Linked DNA regions of Homo sapiens: region 2 is linked to region 1. Evidence: fine-mapped expression QTL. A gene starts in region 1. The other region holds a variant in brackets. All regions are shown on one strand. Distances are between the middles of the regions.

What was found. PIP is the estimated chance that this variant, and not a neighbour inherited with it, causes the effect.
Region 2: its variant is the best candidate, but not a certain one, in a credible set for the expression of WDR19 in whole blood (INTERVAL, PIP 0.66).

The regions. Positions count from the first base shown.
Region 1 is chr4:39,177,996-39,186,332 of GRCh38, reverse strand. It overlaps WDR19 (WD repeat domain 19), which reads right to left and starts at 3,804. Exons shown (of 37, transcript NM_025132.4): 1 at 3,770-3,804; 2 at 516-607. The coding sequence starts at 3,775. RefSeq lists enhancers at 2,766-2,835, 3,536-3,685, 3,810-4,104, 3,956-4,135.
Region 2 is chr4:39,266,596-39,274,890 of GRCh38, reverse strand. It overlaps WDR19 (WD repeat domain 19), which reads right to left. Exons shown (of 37, transcript NM_025132.4): 30 at 6,800-6,896; 31 at 4,791-4,915; 32 at 1,830-1,911; 33 at 1-83. Among named protein-coding and RNA genes, the nearest start is that of WDR19, 88 kb to the right of the region's middle. The variant A/G (reference allele first, on the strand shown) is at 4,598.

The DNA.
Region 1 (8,337 bases):
TAATTTTTGTATTTTTGTAGAGATGGCGTTTCACCATGTTGGCCAGGCTGGTCTCAAACTCCTGGCCTCAAGTGATCTGCCTGCCTTGGCCTCCCAAAGTGTTGGGATTATTGGCATGAGCCACTGCACCTGGCCTAAATGTTTCTTTCATTTATCTATGTATATAAAGCTGCCATCCAAATGATTTCAGTGTTTTCTCCTGATAGTTTCAGAATTTGCATAAAAAGTTATTACCAGGGAAAAGGTTCTATGAACTTTCATGTTAATGGAGATGAATATATTCCTTTTCCTGTCATATAACTGTTAGACAAAAACTTTTACTGAGGCCAGGTTCACTTGAACCTGGGAGGCGGAGGTTGCAGCAAGCTGAGATCGTGCCACTGCACTCCATCCTGGGCAACAAAGCTAGACTCCATTTAAAAAAAAAAAACAACAACAAAAAAAACTTCTACTGAGTAGATGGTGTGATTACATGGGCATGCAACCACTGCTTAAAACATTCATTGGTTTCTTACCCTGTTACTGCAAGGTAGTTTCCTGATGTTTTTTGCCAGGCAAACTGTATTGGTGCGCCAAGCCAAGTCTTTTCTAGCAGTGAGAAAATACGCTAAAAAATAAACACAATTTTTAATATTTTCAAAACATACAATCAAGTGTTGATCAGAAAAGGTATCAAAACATGGTCATGAAAACCATGTTTTCATAGGATTCAGGATAGTGAGGATTATGTTAGAGCTTATCTAGAAGTTAACAACAAAAGAAATAAAACAAAATCAACCAACCAACTAAACATACACAACTACTTGGTAAATTACAGATCTCAAGATATAGGAGGGCTTTTATTTTAAATTTTTTTTGGCTTTTTAATGTTTCTGAATGTTAATTTTACAAAAATATGTAATTTTAGTGTTTTGTAGATGTTAAAGACTAAAATAATTGAAGCCTGAATTCAGTTAATTATCTGTGGCACGGATTCCTGGTGATTAAACTGAACAAAAATTGCTATCTTAAACATGATAAAAACACAAAATGTCTTTACTCCTTTCAACATTATTTTCTTCTATTAGTTCCATTAGTTATATTTACATCATCATTAAGTGTTTAACTTGGCTACTGGGTGAATAGTGTTATCAACTGAAAACTCTTTCTTTTCCTTGAAACAATCAAGAAACGTGATGTCCAATATGGAGGCTACAAACCACATGTAGCTATTGAGGACTTGGAATATAAGTAATCCCAACCTAGCTGTGCTGTAAATATAAAATGTATATCAGATTTCAACAACTGGAAAAAGAATGTAAACTATCTCGTTGTTAATTTTTATATTGATTACATGTTGAAATAACATTTTTGATATACTGGGTAAGATAAAATATATTATTAAAATAAATTTTACCTGTTTTCTTAAAAAATTTTAATGGTCAATAAAAATATGAAATTACATTAGCTCACAGTACATTTATATCAGACAGTGTTGATCTAGAACATTTAGGAATATGAGTTTCAGTGAAAAAATTTAGATTTCAATATTAGGTTAAATTATAGATTAAACAATGATGCCCATTTCTAGGCATATGAAATTTAGATACTGTTACACGGGACTTAGTCTGTGCGGCAACACAAAACTCTTACAATGCTCAAAATTAAACACCGCCTGGCCAACATGGCGAAACCTCGTCTCTACTAAAATTACCAAAAAATGAGCTGGGCATGGTGGCGCTTGCTGTAATCCCATCTACTTGGGAGGCTGAGGCACGAGAATCCCTTGAACCCGGGAGGTGGAGGTTGCAGTGAGCCGAGATGGTGCCACTGCACTCCAGCCTGGGTGACAGAGCAAGACTTCGTCTCAAAATAAATAAATTAACAACCAACAACCAAACACAAAGCAGTGAGGTTGTTTATTTTTATTTTTATTTTTTTTTAGACAGCGTCTTGCTCTGTCGCCCAGGCTCTGGAGTGCAGTGGGGCGATCTTGGCTCACTGCAACCTCCGCCTCCTGGGTTCAAGCGATTCTCCTGCCTCAGCCTCCCGAATAGCTGGGATTACAGGCACACGCTACCACGCCCGGCTAATTTTAAAAATATTTTTGGTAGAGACAGGGTTTCACCATGTTGGCCAGGCTGGTGTCGAACTCCTGACCTCAAGTGATCCACCTGCCTCGGCGTCCCAAAGTGCTGGGATTACAGGCGTGAGCCACCGCACCCTGTCCCAATGAGCATTTTACATGCTAAAGAAGAAATTCCCCTCTATTGAAAGTAGAGGTGGGCTATGATCATGGGACATAAAAGTTTTATAGAGCATAAAGAAACTCATGAAGAAAGAATATTTAAAAGCATCTTACTTTTGCAATTTTGTGACCATTTCACCCTGGAACTCCTTCATGCAAGTGAGAAGTCCTTAAACTTGAATTTCATTACCTTCAATGGCTGACTTGCCTCTAGCTGTGATTTCATATTATTTTTTTTCAGTGGAGCTCTATAGATGCTCCACATACCGTGCAGAGGAAAAACTGCTAGTTTCACAACCAAAAAACCAAGACTTAAATTTTGTTTGTAGCTTATTAGCTGTAGGGCTTTAAGTAAGTCGTTTAAATTGCCTCCAGCAAAAAATTCTCAACTGTAAATCATGAATAATAACTCTTCACTTCTAATATTTCATAAATTGTAAAGAGCTTTAGAAATAAAAATGGGAGTTATGATTACTGGTCCGTCAATTCCAATTTCCACACTAATAGCCACGAAGAAGCATGAGGACATCTAAAATAATTTTAAAATTGAGCCTTCCAGCCGGGCGCGGTGGCTCACGCCTGTAATCTCAGCACTTTGGGAGCCCGAGGTCGGGGGATCATGAGGTCAGGAGAGTGACAGCATCCTGGCTAACACGGTGAAACCCCATCTCTACTAAAAATACAAAAAATTAGCTGGGTGTGGTGGCACGCGCCTGTAGTCCCAGCTACTCGGGGGGCTGAGGCAGGAGAATCGCTTGAACCCAGGAGGTGGAGGTTGCAGGGAGCAGAGATTGCGCCACTGCACTCCAGCCTGGGTAACAGAGCGAGACTCAGTAAAAAAAAAAAAAAAAAAAAGCCTTCCATTTCTTTGCCAGAGCAGAGCAAGGGGGGACTGCTCTGATAAATCAGAAAGTGGGGTGAACAAGAAGCCCAAGCCTAGAAACCGTGCGTGCAGAGGATGAGGCACATGAGCGTGAGACCTGAGTTTTCGGGTGCAGATTTCCCGTCAATAATGTACACTCGCTAGCAGGTGATTGGACTGGTCACAGGTAATACATTTTGAAGTTATTCTTTAGGAGGCTTTTCATTCTTTTTAAGGCGCTGGGCAGCTGCGCGGCTTGCCAGAGGCTTAGCCCCAAGAAATGAGGTAGCTCGTGACATCGGACCCAGTCAACTTCACAGCGACCCTCCAAACGCGTTAACTCGACCAGTTCTTTCCGCGTGCGAAGCTGGGGTATCTTTAGATCCAGTCCGCTCATTTCGGCCAGGGAGGGGTTCCCACTTTCTGCACCGCTTCTACGGCGTCTGCAGTCCCCAAAACGAGAGGCCTCTCTCTCCGCCCTCTCCTCTCCTCCTATTTTCTTTCCTTTCTCTCGTCCCTTCAGCTTCGCCCCCGCTCTCTCTGGCCACCTCTCTCTCTCTCTCTCTTCCTCATTTCCAACGAACTCAGAAGGGAGAGGGACAGATATCCTCTTTTAAAAGCGACCAAGGGCCAGTAGTCGCGTTTTCCCGCCCCACCCCGGGAATTTGTAAGTTATTTACCTTCATCTCCACGCTCGAGCCGCTACGCGAACTATGAAGTACGCAGGCGCACCCGGTCTCCACCAAGCAGGCTACCGCGTTCCCGTCACCCAGGAGACCGCGCGAGCAGCGACCAATCAGCGAGTGCTAATTGAAAGGCGGTGCCTCGAGGGGCCGGGCCAAGCGCACCGCCCTCTGCGAGGGTGGGTGAGAGGCGGAGGGTGGAATCACATGACATCAGAGACGCTAACCCTGGGAAGTTGGGCGTCGCGAGGCCTTGCTGAGCCTCGGCTTCCTGGCTGGCTCTGATTGGATGAGATTCGTCCGGGAGAGACGGGCTCTGTGAGCCCTCAAAGGCGCGTGCGTAAATTTTGGACCGCGATGACTAAGATGTCAGTGCTGGCCAAAGGGGGCGCCGAGAAGCTGAAGGAAAGAAGACGCAGAATGTTAGATTAAAGGAGGCAGGATGGGCTAAATACTCCTATACAGTCCACGCAAAGAGGGGTTGGACGAGCTCGGGTATATCTTTTTTTCTTCCAGGTTTCTGGGGTAGAAGGGAGGAGGCATAAGAGGTACAATAGTTTATTTCAAGGTAGGGTTGTTGGTGCTTTTTTTTTTTCAGTTTCACCAAAATCTTTTTTTTTTTTCAATGTCAACAAAATGTGCTAGCTAACGTGGGCAGGAAAAATGAGCTCCAATAGTTTTCCTTTAGAGTTTGGATCTGGCAGCTTTTCCCCAAGTATAAAGCCCTGTTGTACAGTATTTGTGCTGCATTATTTATAGCATGAAAGTGCATCTTTTACCCAAGCGTCTGAAAGTGTTGAAACAGTCTACCTTTTGCTTTTCTTTTCGACATCAGGTAGGAATCTGATTGGCTTAGAGAAAGTTAATCAATGATTTGAAATAACTAATAATGAATGTTTGCAAATTCTTAAGTAGGGTGCTATGCCTTTGCACTGGGGTTTTCAGTTACGTTACGACAGGGGTCCGGATCCAGACCCCAAGAGAGGGTTCTTGGATCGCGCGCAAGAAAGAATTCAGGGCGAGTTCTCAGTGCTGAGAAAAGCAAGTTTATTAAAACACGTAAAGTGGTGAAAGGACAGCTACTCCATAGACAGAGTAGGACATTCCTGAAAGCAAGAGAAGGGACGCATCCACCCTAGGTACAATGCTTGTATATATGGGGAGATGTGCTCTGCTACAAGGGTTTGTGATCAAAGATTAATTTTCTTAATTATTTTGCAGGAATTGATATTATTATCTTTAAAGCAAAATTAGGAATGCCTTTGTTCTCCAGATATCCCGATATCTGGGTCTGTTTTAGTAAACATTATTAATTTATTCCCTTAATCGTAAACATCTAGAGGCGAGGAATGCCCAAATTCTGAGAATTCAGCCCAGCAAGTCTCAGCCTCATTTTCCTAGCCCTCACTCAAAATGGAATCGCTCTGGTTCAAACGCCTCTGACAGTTAGGTTAATTACTTAAATTTTTACTGAAAGATTCCTCTGCTGAAAGGGTAACCATTTAAAAATAGCCAGAGCAATCAGTTCTTAACAAGACCTGCCCTCAGGAGAAAGTATTTTTACCAAAGCCTAGTCTGCTGGGGTTTTATCAGAGCCTAAACTACCTGGGAGAAGGGAAATACTCAACTTCAGCCTCCATAAACCATCCTGTTCCACTTAAGTGTGGGAGATTAAGAAGTATTGGCGGGCGCCTGTAGTCCCAGCTACGCGGGAGGCTGAGGCCGGAGAACGGCGTGAACCCGGGAGGCGGAGCTTGCAGTGAGCGGAGATCGCGCCACTGCACTCCAGCCTGGGCGATAGAGCGAGACTCCGTCAAAAAAAACAGCAAAAAGAAGTATTGGTGGCCAGGCTCAGTGGCTCACGCCTGTAATCTCAGCACTTGGGGAGTTCGAGGTGGGGGGCTCACTTGAGGTCAGGAGTTCAGGACCAGCCTGGCCAACATGGTGAAACCCCGTCTTTACTAAAATACAAAAAATTAGCTGTGCATGGTGGTGGGCACCTGTAGTCCCAGCTGCTCGGGAGGCTGAGGCAGGGGAATCGCTTGAACCCGGGAGGGGGAGGTTGCAGTGAGCCTAGATCGTGCCACTGCACTCCAGCCTGGCGACAGAGCAAGGCAAGACTCTGCTCAAAAAAAAAAAAAAAAAAAAAAAATTAGCCTGGCGTGGTGGCACATGCCTGTAATCCCAGCTACTCGGGAGGCCGAGGCATGAGACTCGCTTGAACCTGGGAGGCAGAGGTTGCAATGAGCCGAGATTGTGCCACTGCACTCCAGCCTGGTGACGGAGCTAGACTTCGTCTCAAAAAAAAAAGGAAGTACTGGTGACTTTTACCATCCACACCGGCTCACTAAAGGCTGAGGCCTAATCATAGGACTATAGAACACTTGCCCTATCCTGTACCTTACCACATACCACTAAAAGACTACTTACAAGTATTCCTTTTATCCAGTATATCCTGTCTGGTGTCTTAGTTGTTTTCTGTTGTTTATGACAGAATACATAAAACCGGGTAATTTATAAAGAAAAGGAACTCATTTGTCATAGTTAGGGAGACTGAGAAGTCCAAGGTCAAGGGAGTGCATCTGGTGAGATCCTTCTTGCTGGTGCGGACTCTCTGAAGAGTCCTGAGGCAGCACAGGATATCACATGGCAAGGAGGCTGAGTGTGCTAACGTTCTAGCTAAGGTCTCCTTATAAAGCCACCAATTTCACTCCCATGATAACCCACTAATTCATTAACCCATTAATCCCTGAATCTTTGAATGAATTAATCCATTCATGAAAGCAGGGCACACAGGAACCATTTGCCTCTTAAAGGCCCCAACTTTCAATATTGCCACATTGGTGATTAAGTTTCAACATGAGCTTTGGAGGGGACATTCAAACCATAGCATCCAGATTTCAACAAAAAATTACAAGGCATACTAAAAGGCAAAAAACACTGCTTGAAGAGACTGAACAAGCAGGAGAACTAGAGTCATATATAGCAGGAGTGTTGAAATTATTAGACCAGGACTTTAAAAAAAAAATAAGATGAATGTGCTACTGGAGGTAATGGAAAAAGTAGACAACATGCAAGAGCAGATGGAAAACACAAGCAGAGAGATAGAAATTCTAATAAAGACTCAAAAAGAAATGCTAGAGATCAAAAACACTAACAGAAATGAAGAATGCTCATGATTAATTTCCCCCAAGTTCATGTCTGACAACAAATCACACCTCCTGGAAGCTCAGAGAACTCCAAACAGGATAAGTGCTCAATAAACCACACCTAGGCATATCATATTTAAACTTTGAAAAATAAAATATTTTTCAAAAATCGTGAAAGAAGCTGAGGGGAGGGGGGCATTATGTATAGAGGAGGTAAGATAAGAATTACATTGAATTCTCAGAAACCATGAAAGGAAGAAGAGAGCGGAATAAAATATTTAAAGTGTTGAGAATTTTTTTTAAACCCACAAATCTAGAATTCTGTATCCTGTAAAATTATCCTTCACAAGTGAAGGAGTCCACTCCTCATTGATTAGATGCCAAACTCAAAATGGCTAACTTTGGTGAAAGGATCTTGACCTGCCTTTTTTCAAACTGGAACTGTTCTTGCCATGCATTTTCCTCCTGACTCAACAGTAAAGCTACTTTAGTTCTAAGTGTTTTGATACCACAAGGATGTAGTGGTCAGTAATCAGATCAAGACTTGAAAAAAAGAGTATTTCATGTAAACATTATTTGGGGGTTACTCAAACAATACTAGTGATTTATGATTTAATGTAAAACACACACACACATTTTTACAGAAACACTATATGAGGATTCAAATCCCTGAATATCAGTAAATGGGATTGAGAAATATTTTTGTGTAAGGATGAGGAAGTTGATCCTGTACTATGAAGGAGGTACAGTTGTTTCATGTAGACTTAAAAATGTTTTAATGTGTTTCATGGCCAGGAGTAGCAGCTCAAGCCCGTAATCCCAGCACTTTGGGAGGCCAGAGGTGGGAGGTTCACTTGGGCCCAGGAATTTGAGAATGGCCTGGGCAACAAAGCAAGACCCCTTTGCTACAAAAAAAAATAAATAAATAAAAATTAGCCAGGCATGGTGGCATGTGCCTACAGTGCCAGCTACTTGGGAGGCTAAGCCAGGAGAATCCTTTGAGGGTATCACATGGCATTCAAGGCTGCACTGAGTTATGATCACGCCACTGTGCTCCAGCCTGGGTGACAGAGTGAAACCCTGTCTCAAAAAAAAAAAAGTGTTTTATGTTTTTTATACTGTTTTTAACTAAAGTTATAAAAATGTTTCCAACAAGTTATCTCTCCTTATGTTTTAAGAATCTAAATTATCTCAGTGAGTTGAAATAAGGGTGTTAGCAGCTTTCTAATTAGTATATAAATCTGTCCAAACAAGAGGACATCCTAGTACACAAAATAATGTCACTGTTTCAAACCAGTCTAGACCAAAAAAAATTAAAATTTTCAGAGTCAAAAATGAACATCTGAAGAGAAACTAATTCCTCCTTAAAAATAAAAGTATCTTCAAAATAGAAAAAAAAAATTCAGAATCGTTTCA
Region 2 (8,295 bases), 89 kb before region 1:
CATAGCTGCGAAGCTGAAAGCAGAGTTCTTCAGGCCTGCCCTGTGACACTCAATCACAGTTGACGTCAGGATGGGTACAATGTCTGCAAGAGAAAAGGGGAGAGCAGCAACAGCACAGTGTCTGCTGTCCTCAGTGATACAGGCGGGATTCCACCCTGGTTCTGTAGGAAAACAGGGTCATGGTCTCTGAACTTTGCTTTTTCTGCAAAGAACCAGATATGATCTGTTTAATGAGGAAAGTACGTAGCTGTGGGGTCAGGCTAACTGCCCATCAAGTGCTTTTCCTTTGATGACACCATGTTCTGCCTTGTAACACTAGGACCTGCACCCCTTGAGGCAACACTTCCATGAGTTTCCTTTCATGCCTCTTAGATATTTTTTGCATCTGACAGGACTGCTGATAAAAGCATTAGGGGGATTAATGACTTTATACACTAATCTCTCTGCAGGCATCAAATTCTTTCTTCAGGACAGACACCCAGAATTACCGGCTCAAAAACAGGACCTTTTAAAAAATACTCTTACCACAAATTGCCAAACTGCTTTCTGCAAAGGCCATACCAATTTCCATCCCCACCAGCAGTCATGAGAGTGCCTGTCCTATCCCATACCTTGCCCGCATGGTAGACTTTGATGTAACAACAACAAAAATACACTTAGAGAATGTGGGTTGGCCAATTATGACCCATGGACCAAATCTAGCCCTCTGACTTTTTGTATGGTCCATGAGCTAAGGATGATTTTTACATTTTTAAATGGTTGAAAAAACATCAAAAGAAAAATATTTTTGTGACATGTTAAAAGTGTATGTGGTTAACATTTGTGTCCAAACATAAAGCTCTATTGAAACACAGTCATGCCCATTCGTTTACGTATTATTCATGAGAAGATGGCAGAGTTGAGCAGTTGTGACAGAGGCCACATGTCTCACGAAGTCTAAAATATTTAACATCTGGTCCTTTACAGAAAAAGTTTGCTGATCCCTGTCATGTAATGTGACAGTATTTAATCACTTAAGAATGTTATCATGACATGTCTTTTGGAATAGTGAGGCCTTTTCAGAGGCAACGTCCTACCGTGCTTGTGAACACAGAGTCAGGCTATTATTAGCTGACAATGTGATCTTGGGCAAATGTTATTTCTTTTGTCCCAGTTTGTTCAGAAAAGTACTTGTGTGTGCAGGCCTGAGACTGTCATCCTTGGAAAGGCTTGAACAGCTAACCCTCGGCTCGCATCTGGAACATAGATTTGGAGACGGTTCCCACCGTTTCCAGAACTGATGAGTGGCTCACCGTGCCTAAAATCTTTGTACAAACAACGTGGTTTATGCCGAACACCTGCTCTCTGGGAGCCTGGAAAACTGGGCACATGCCACGCAGGGGGCACCTATGTGACCACACCCCAATAAAACTCCTGGCTGCTGAGTCTCTAATGAGCTTCTTGGCACTCTACGTTTCACCATGTTGTACAAGTCAGTCGTGGAGGAGTTACGGAACTTGCGTCCTGTGTGCTCCACTGGGAAGGGACTCTTGGAGGTCCGTGCCTGCACCTGCTCGCCTTTGCGTGAATCCTTCTGCTCATTTTGCCTCAGATCCTTTTGCTGTGATAAATCTCGGCTTTGGTACTACTGTGTGTTGACTCTTGTAAATCCTCCCAGTGAAGAGTCATCAAACCTGGGAGTGGTCTTGGGGCCCTGACATACCACTTCATGGAGCTGCTGTGAGAATTAAACGAGTTAGTGTATGAGGGGAGCCTGCAAAAGGGGCGCTGGGCTAGCATGCGGCATGGGGCATGGGGCATGGGTGAGAGCTCTGGTCAGTGGTACTTACGTGATGGAAATTTGCTGATGTTGTTGGCCACCCGAATGAGCATGCGAGCCCCTTTCATGTGATCTCCATTTTTAACATGAATCTGAAACAAATGACATATTTTACTCTTCTTATAGTCATTGATTAGCCCCAATTCATGCTTTGTTCCCCCAAATAAACAACTCCTTGATGATGGCCCAGGGTCACTGTGGGATCCTTGTAGACTTTCCTGGCTGATGCCATTAGAGATCCCTCCACTTTTTTCTCTTCAACAGCTACTGCCTGGCCCCATGGCCTCACCTACTCTATGCTCTGCTTTTCACTTTGCCCTAGACCACTTGGTATGGGTTCAAATCCCCAGTCTATCTCTTACTGGCCATTCTTGGGGGACCAACTTCACCAAGTTCTGGTAAGACCCAAAAGCTGTGTGAGTCAGGAATCAGGTAGAGAGAGAGAGAATGATCTGCTAAAGGAAAGGCGCCGTGTCTGTGCTAAGAGGGCAATGACGGGCAGAAGGCCTGAGACTGGGCAAGGACCAGGAGGGTCAGTGACACATCGAGGGGTGCGTTTAGGATGGGGTGAGCCTCGAGAGTCAGCAGGGGCCAGGACATGAAGCCACTGCAGTCATCCAGGGGTGAGACAAGGAGGCCAAAAAGGTGGGGCAGTGGGGATGGAGAGAAGCAGACAGATGTGGGGTCAGGGCTGAGGATACTTGGTGAGAGTGTGGAATGATGCCAACCCTTGGGGCCAGAGAAAAAGAAAAGGACTCAAGAAGCACCCCTGTGGCTTATGGTGCTAGAAAGCTCTGTTGCAAGAGGGCCTCTTATAGGAATTCCTATTTTTGCCCCGCATCTTTCACCAATGTGTTTCTGTGCCCCCTGCACTCCTAAAGACTCCATTTTGTTAGATTCTGTGCTTCCAGGACATTGAATCACCACTCATGTCTGCAGCTGAGAAAGACTTCTCTCCTTCAAACCCCCTTCTTTATGGAAGAAGGATCCTCCTGCCTCTCTGAAGGGAAGTGTACTCCTGGAGGTTGCAAGTTATAACTCCAGATGCATTTCCCTTAGAATCAGCATTATAGACCTGTGCAGTCTCCTGTGGTAGGCATTAATCACGTATGGCTACTTAAATTTAAAAGTTAAAATCATATACAATTAAAAATGTAGTTTATCAGCTGTACTAGCTGCATTTCAAGTGCTCCATAGCCAGGTTAGTGGCTACCATATTGGGCAGTACAGTATAGAATAGTTCTATCACTGTAGAACATTCTACTGGACAGTGCTGATATAGACAATAATTAGGATGTAAATCATTCATAACATGACTGCTCTTGTGGACAGGTCAGAGAACCAATTTAGCATTAATACGGAAAGATGTACTGCGACATAAATGAATATTTGAAAAAATATGTAAGTTGGAGTCTGCCTGTATCTTTACAGAGATATGTATATATATAAATGTACACATGAATATACATGACATTTATGTAAGTTGTATTGTGTCTTTTTTTAGAGTTGAGGTCTCGCTCTGTTGCCCAGGCTGGAGTGCCATGGTGTGATTATAGCTCACTGCAGCCTCAAACTCCTGGGCTTAAGTGATCCTCCTGCCTTGTCCTCCCAAAGTACTGGGATTACACGTGTGAGCCACCATGCCCAGCCTCATTTATGTAAATTATACATACAAGTACTTGATGTTTGCAGGATCTATTTTTGTTTGTATTGATAATTACTGATTTAAAAAACAGAATATACACAACTAAACATAATCCCAATTTGGTAAAAAACATGCATTTATAGAAGTACAAAGAATATATACAACACTATTAACAATTGTTATATCTGGGTGATGGACTTAAAGGACGAATTTTTAAAAAATTCTTTTCTGGCCGGGCACAGTGGCTCACGCCTGTAATCCCAGCACTTTGGGAGGCCGAGGCAGGTGGATTGCCTGAGGACAGGAGTTCGAGACCAGCCTGGCCAACGTGGTGAAACCCCATCTCTATTAAAAATACAAAAAAATTAGCCGGGTGTGGTGGCATTTGCCTGTAATCCCAGCTACTCAGGAGGCTGAGGCAGGGGAATTGCTTGAAGCAGGGAGGTGGAGGATGCAGTGAGCCAAGATCGGGCCACTGCACTCCAACCTGGGTGACAGAGTGAGATTCCATCTCAAAAAAAAAAAAAAAAATTCTTTTCTATATTTTTTAAACTTTCTTAGGGAATATGTATTATTTTTATATTTGGATGAAAACTAAACAATATTTACAAAACAGTGGAATTTTATGAAATCCACTAACAGAATAAATAAACTAACAAGTTTTGCATAAAGAAAGATGTTTTAAGTAAATCTATTTTTCTGGCACAGGCAATACATTTACATGTTTCAAAATCAAAACAATATAAGAAAGCTGAGCGTGGTGGCTCATGCCTGTAATCCCAGCACTTTGGGAGGCCAAGGCGGGCGGATCACTTGAGGTCAGAAGTTTGAAATCAGCCTGGCCAACATGGTGAAACCCCATATCTACTAAAAATACAAAAAAATTAACTGGGTGTGGTGGTGTGTGCCTGTAATCCCAGCTACTTGGAAGGCTGAGGCAGAAGAATTGCTTGAACCTGGGAGGCAGAGGTTGCAGTGAGCCGAGGACGTGCCACTGCACTCCAGCCTGGGTAAAGAGCAAGACGTCGTCTCAAAAACAAAACAAAACAACCCACACACTATAATAAGATGCACATGATGAAGCCTGGTCCCCCTCATCTCCCCGTCTCCCTGTCCCCACACTGGAGTTTGGT[A/G]CTGTGCCTCCTGCCCCGTGCCTCATTCCACACAAAGCAGCGTATTGTAGATATGTTCTGTATCTTGTTTTGTTACTTAACAATACAGACATCTAGACAATCACTCGAATCCAATGGAGAAGGGCCTGGAGAAAATCTCAATGGGGGACAAACACCTGGCAGGTTATGTCCCAAGTCACTCCATGGGCCTCACCTTTACTAGTATATAGCTGTGCAGAATCATGAGGTTGGTGGCCATCTCGGAGGGAATTTTGATCTTCTGGGATTTCAGTTCTGCATACATACTGAAGAGAACATCGTGTGCATTCCGGTAGTTGCCTTGAAAAAAGGTGGTAAAACGACATTACTGCAAAGGGTGACATCTGAGGACATTCTATGGACCCCCATCTTACTAGTGGATTTTGTTAATCTTGTTATTAGTAATCTCTTAATAATGTCTTATTCAAAGCAACTCAGCAGATTTCCTATTTATCTGTCTGTCTGTCTGTCAGAGATAGGGTCTCGCTCTGTCACCAAGGCTGGAGTGCAAGGGCACAATCTCTGTTCACTGCAACCTCTGCCTCTCAAGCTCAAGTGATCCTCCCATGCCTGGGTAATTTTTGTGTTTTTTGTAGAGACAAGGTTTTCACCATGTTGCCCAGGCTGGTCTCAAACACCTTGGCTCAAGAAATCCACCCTCCTCGGCCTCCCAAAGTGCTGGGATTACAGGCATGAGCCATTGTGACCGGCCAGATTTCCTATTTTAATTGATGTTATGAACATCTAGCCAGTTGCTCTGGTGAAAAATGGTGGTGTCCTCCTTGATGTCTTACTCTTCCTCAGGGCACCCCCCTGGCCCTGAAGTCCACCAGGCCATGGAGTTCTGAGTATAACTCTCAGTCTCCCAATTCCAGCCTCCCTTCCCATGCCTACTGTGAATGCTTCTCATCATTTCCTTCTGCTGTAGTGCTCATCAGGATTGCTCTGGGCCCACATCTGATGTCAGAGTATGCCTTCAAAACCCTCAAGCCTTGATCCACACCCAAACAACTCAAGGTCACACCCCTGCATAAAACCCTCCAATGGCGCCACTCACGCCTGGAAGTGCAAATTCCTGAGCAGAGGACTTGTGCCCTTCAGGATCGGCCTCTGCGCTCCTTTCTGGCCTGATTTTCCCTCCCTTTCTTCTCCAGGTGTGTAAATGCTGCAGCCTTGCCAGCACTTTTCCTCATCCCAGCACTTCCCCACCTCCCCATTTCCCCAAATCCCAGCACTCTGGCTCCCAGCAACCTCCACTCCCCTCGTCACCTGCTCCCCCATCCTTTCAAAACTCAGGTAAAGCTTTCATTGCCTTCTCTCGTCTCCATCCTCCAACTCTCCCTACCCCAACCTTCAGGATGCTGTGGGTAACCCAGCAGTCGCTCTTATTTTAATTGTGCCTTTTCAGCCTATTTCTCTTTCTAGTCTGGCACTTGTCATCCCGTCCAACTCTGAATTTACTTTCTGTCTCTCCCATCAAATCATGACCTTGAGGGTTGAACTGTGGCTCAGTTCTCTCTGTATCCTGAGCTCCTAGCACGCATCTGACAGGAAGAAGGTGTTGTTAGATCAACGTAAGCTGAATAAAGTAATGACTTATTTGACTGCATATTTTCCAAAATTGTGTCCACATTTATAAAGATTTAAGAAGATCAGCTCATAAAAATTAATGAAGATATCAGACTAATCCTCTTACTCACTCAATAAGTATTGACAGAGCACATGTGAGCAGAACCATCCTGAAGAGTCTATCAAGCCTCTGCATATTATAAAGAACTAGGTCTGTAACAGCACCGCATCATTACCCTCCATCGCCTAATGTCTCATATTGTTAAGGCCAAACACAGGGAATGGAAAGAAAATGCCGTGAGACTGTAGGAAGGGGGTTGTGGGCTGGAGGGGTGAGAGGAGACATCATTCATGAGACAGAACCTCTGAGGTTGTGGGGGAGAGGAAATAGCACTTGACAAGAGATGGTCTTAGTCTCTTACATTTATACAGTCTCCTGGGATAGTACATTGTTTAACCCCTCTGAAACCTAGAAATGGTCATCTCTTTAGTCTTTTGGGTTCAAAGCAAGCCTATGTTACAAACGTAGGGGCTACTCTTTCCTACACAGAAAAGGGGCTGGGGCTTGATTCTGCTGCCTGCTTGGGAAGTAACACATACGTATCACGGACCTACCTGCAGACTGCTCTTCTCTGGCAATGATGATGGCAGTCTGGGCAGCTTCTCGGTATTGCTTCAGAGCCATGTACAAGCGGAACAGGTACTTGGCATCCTGACACATAAACCATTATAGAAACATTACTTTCTTCATTAGCTAAGGGGAGATTACATTTTTGTATTGCAGTTAGAATCACATTCATCTGCCAGTAACTGAGAATTGATATTGCTTTAAAAACTCAATGAATAAAGAATTCGTTTATTTATTAAACATTTATTCAGAGCTCAATATGGCCAGGTGGTATTCTAAGTACTTGAGAAATACTAATGCATTTAAATCCTCATACCCACCCTAGGAAGAAGGCACTATTGTTATCCCGATTTCACAGATAAGAAGCTGAAACAACAGGAGGGGGCCAGTCAGGATTTGAACCACAGGATCTGAGTCTATTCCTGACCCTACTCCACAGAGTATTTCTCATGTACTTGGAAACAAAATATATTCTTACATGATATATGAACTTTGCAAACTTTCCATAATTTTTATATGCATATCAATTTTCTCTGACCTATAACATTTTCTTTGGCCTTTGGCCATTTTCCATTCCTATTCCAACTCTAGACAGCTGCGAGCATCTGACGCTGGTTTTCAAATTATTGGAATAAGTGGACACCATGGGAGGTGGCTGGAGCAGTTGAAGGGCCTGTATCCTTTGGCAAGTTAACTGAGCTGCTCTGGGTCTCTGTGGCTTTATCTGTAAGATGCAGAAAATGGACTCAGGGACCACTACGGTCCTCTCCAGCTGTGACATTCTATTGCCCTCGTTTCCAATCAGTGACTTGAGTTCTTCACCAGCAAATCTCCTTGAACATAAAGCAAAGGGGAAGGAGGTCTGGGGCATTCTCAAAGGTGTGTGGGTCTCTCCTCACCAGGACTGGGAGAAGATGGACGTTCTGTAGGAAGCCACAGTGAGTCGCATATTTTGAAAATATGCTTGTAATGATTTCTTTCTTACTTTTTCTTTTTGAGATGGAGTCTCACTCTGTCGCCCAGGCTGGAGTGCAGTGGCACAATCTCGGTTCACTGCAACCTCTGCCTCCTGGCTTCAAGCAATTCTCCTGCCTCAGCCTCCTGAGTAGCTAGGACTATAGGCGCATGCCACCATGCCTGGCTAATTTTATATTTTTTGTAGAGACGGGGTTTCGCCATGTTGGCCAGGCTAGTCTCCAACTCCTGACCTCAAGTGATCCACCCGCCTTGGCCTCCCAAAGTGCTGGGATTACAGGCATGAGACACCGCGCCTGGCCAATTTATTTCTATTTTATGTTATAGAGAACTACCTTTATGCTTAATCTGATTTTTGTTAACTTCCATAATTTTTGAAATGTAAACAAAGCACCCTCTGAGTTTTAGAGATGAATGCTAGGTCATAGTTGCAACATCAGTGATCTTTTTTCATAGTTCCTAGAATAAACAAAATTATAACATTTGAGAAAAATTGTATGTGGTGAGG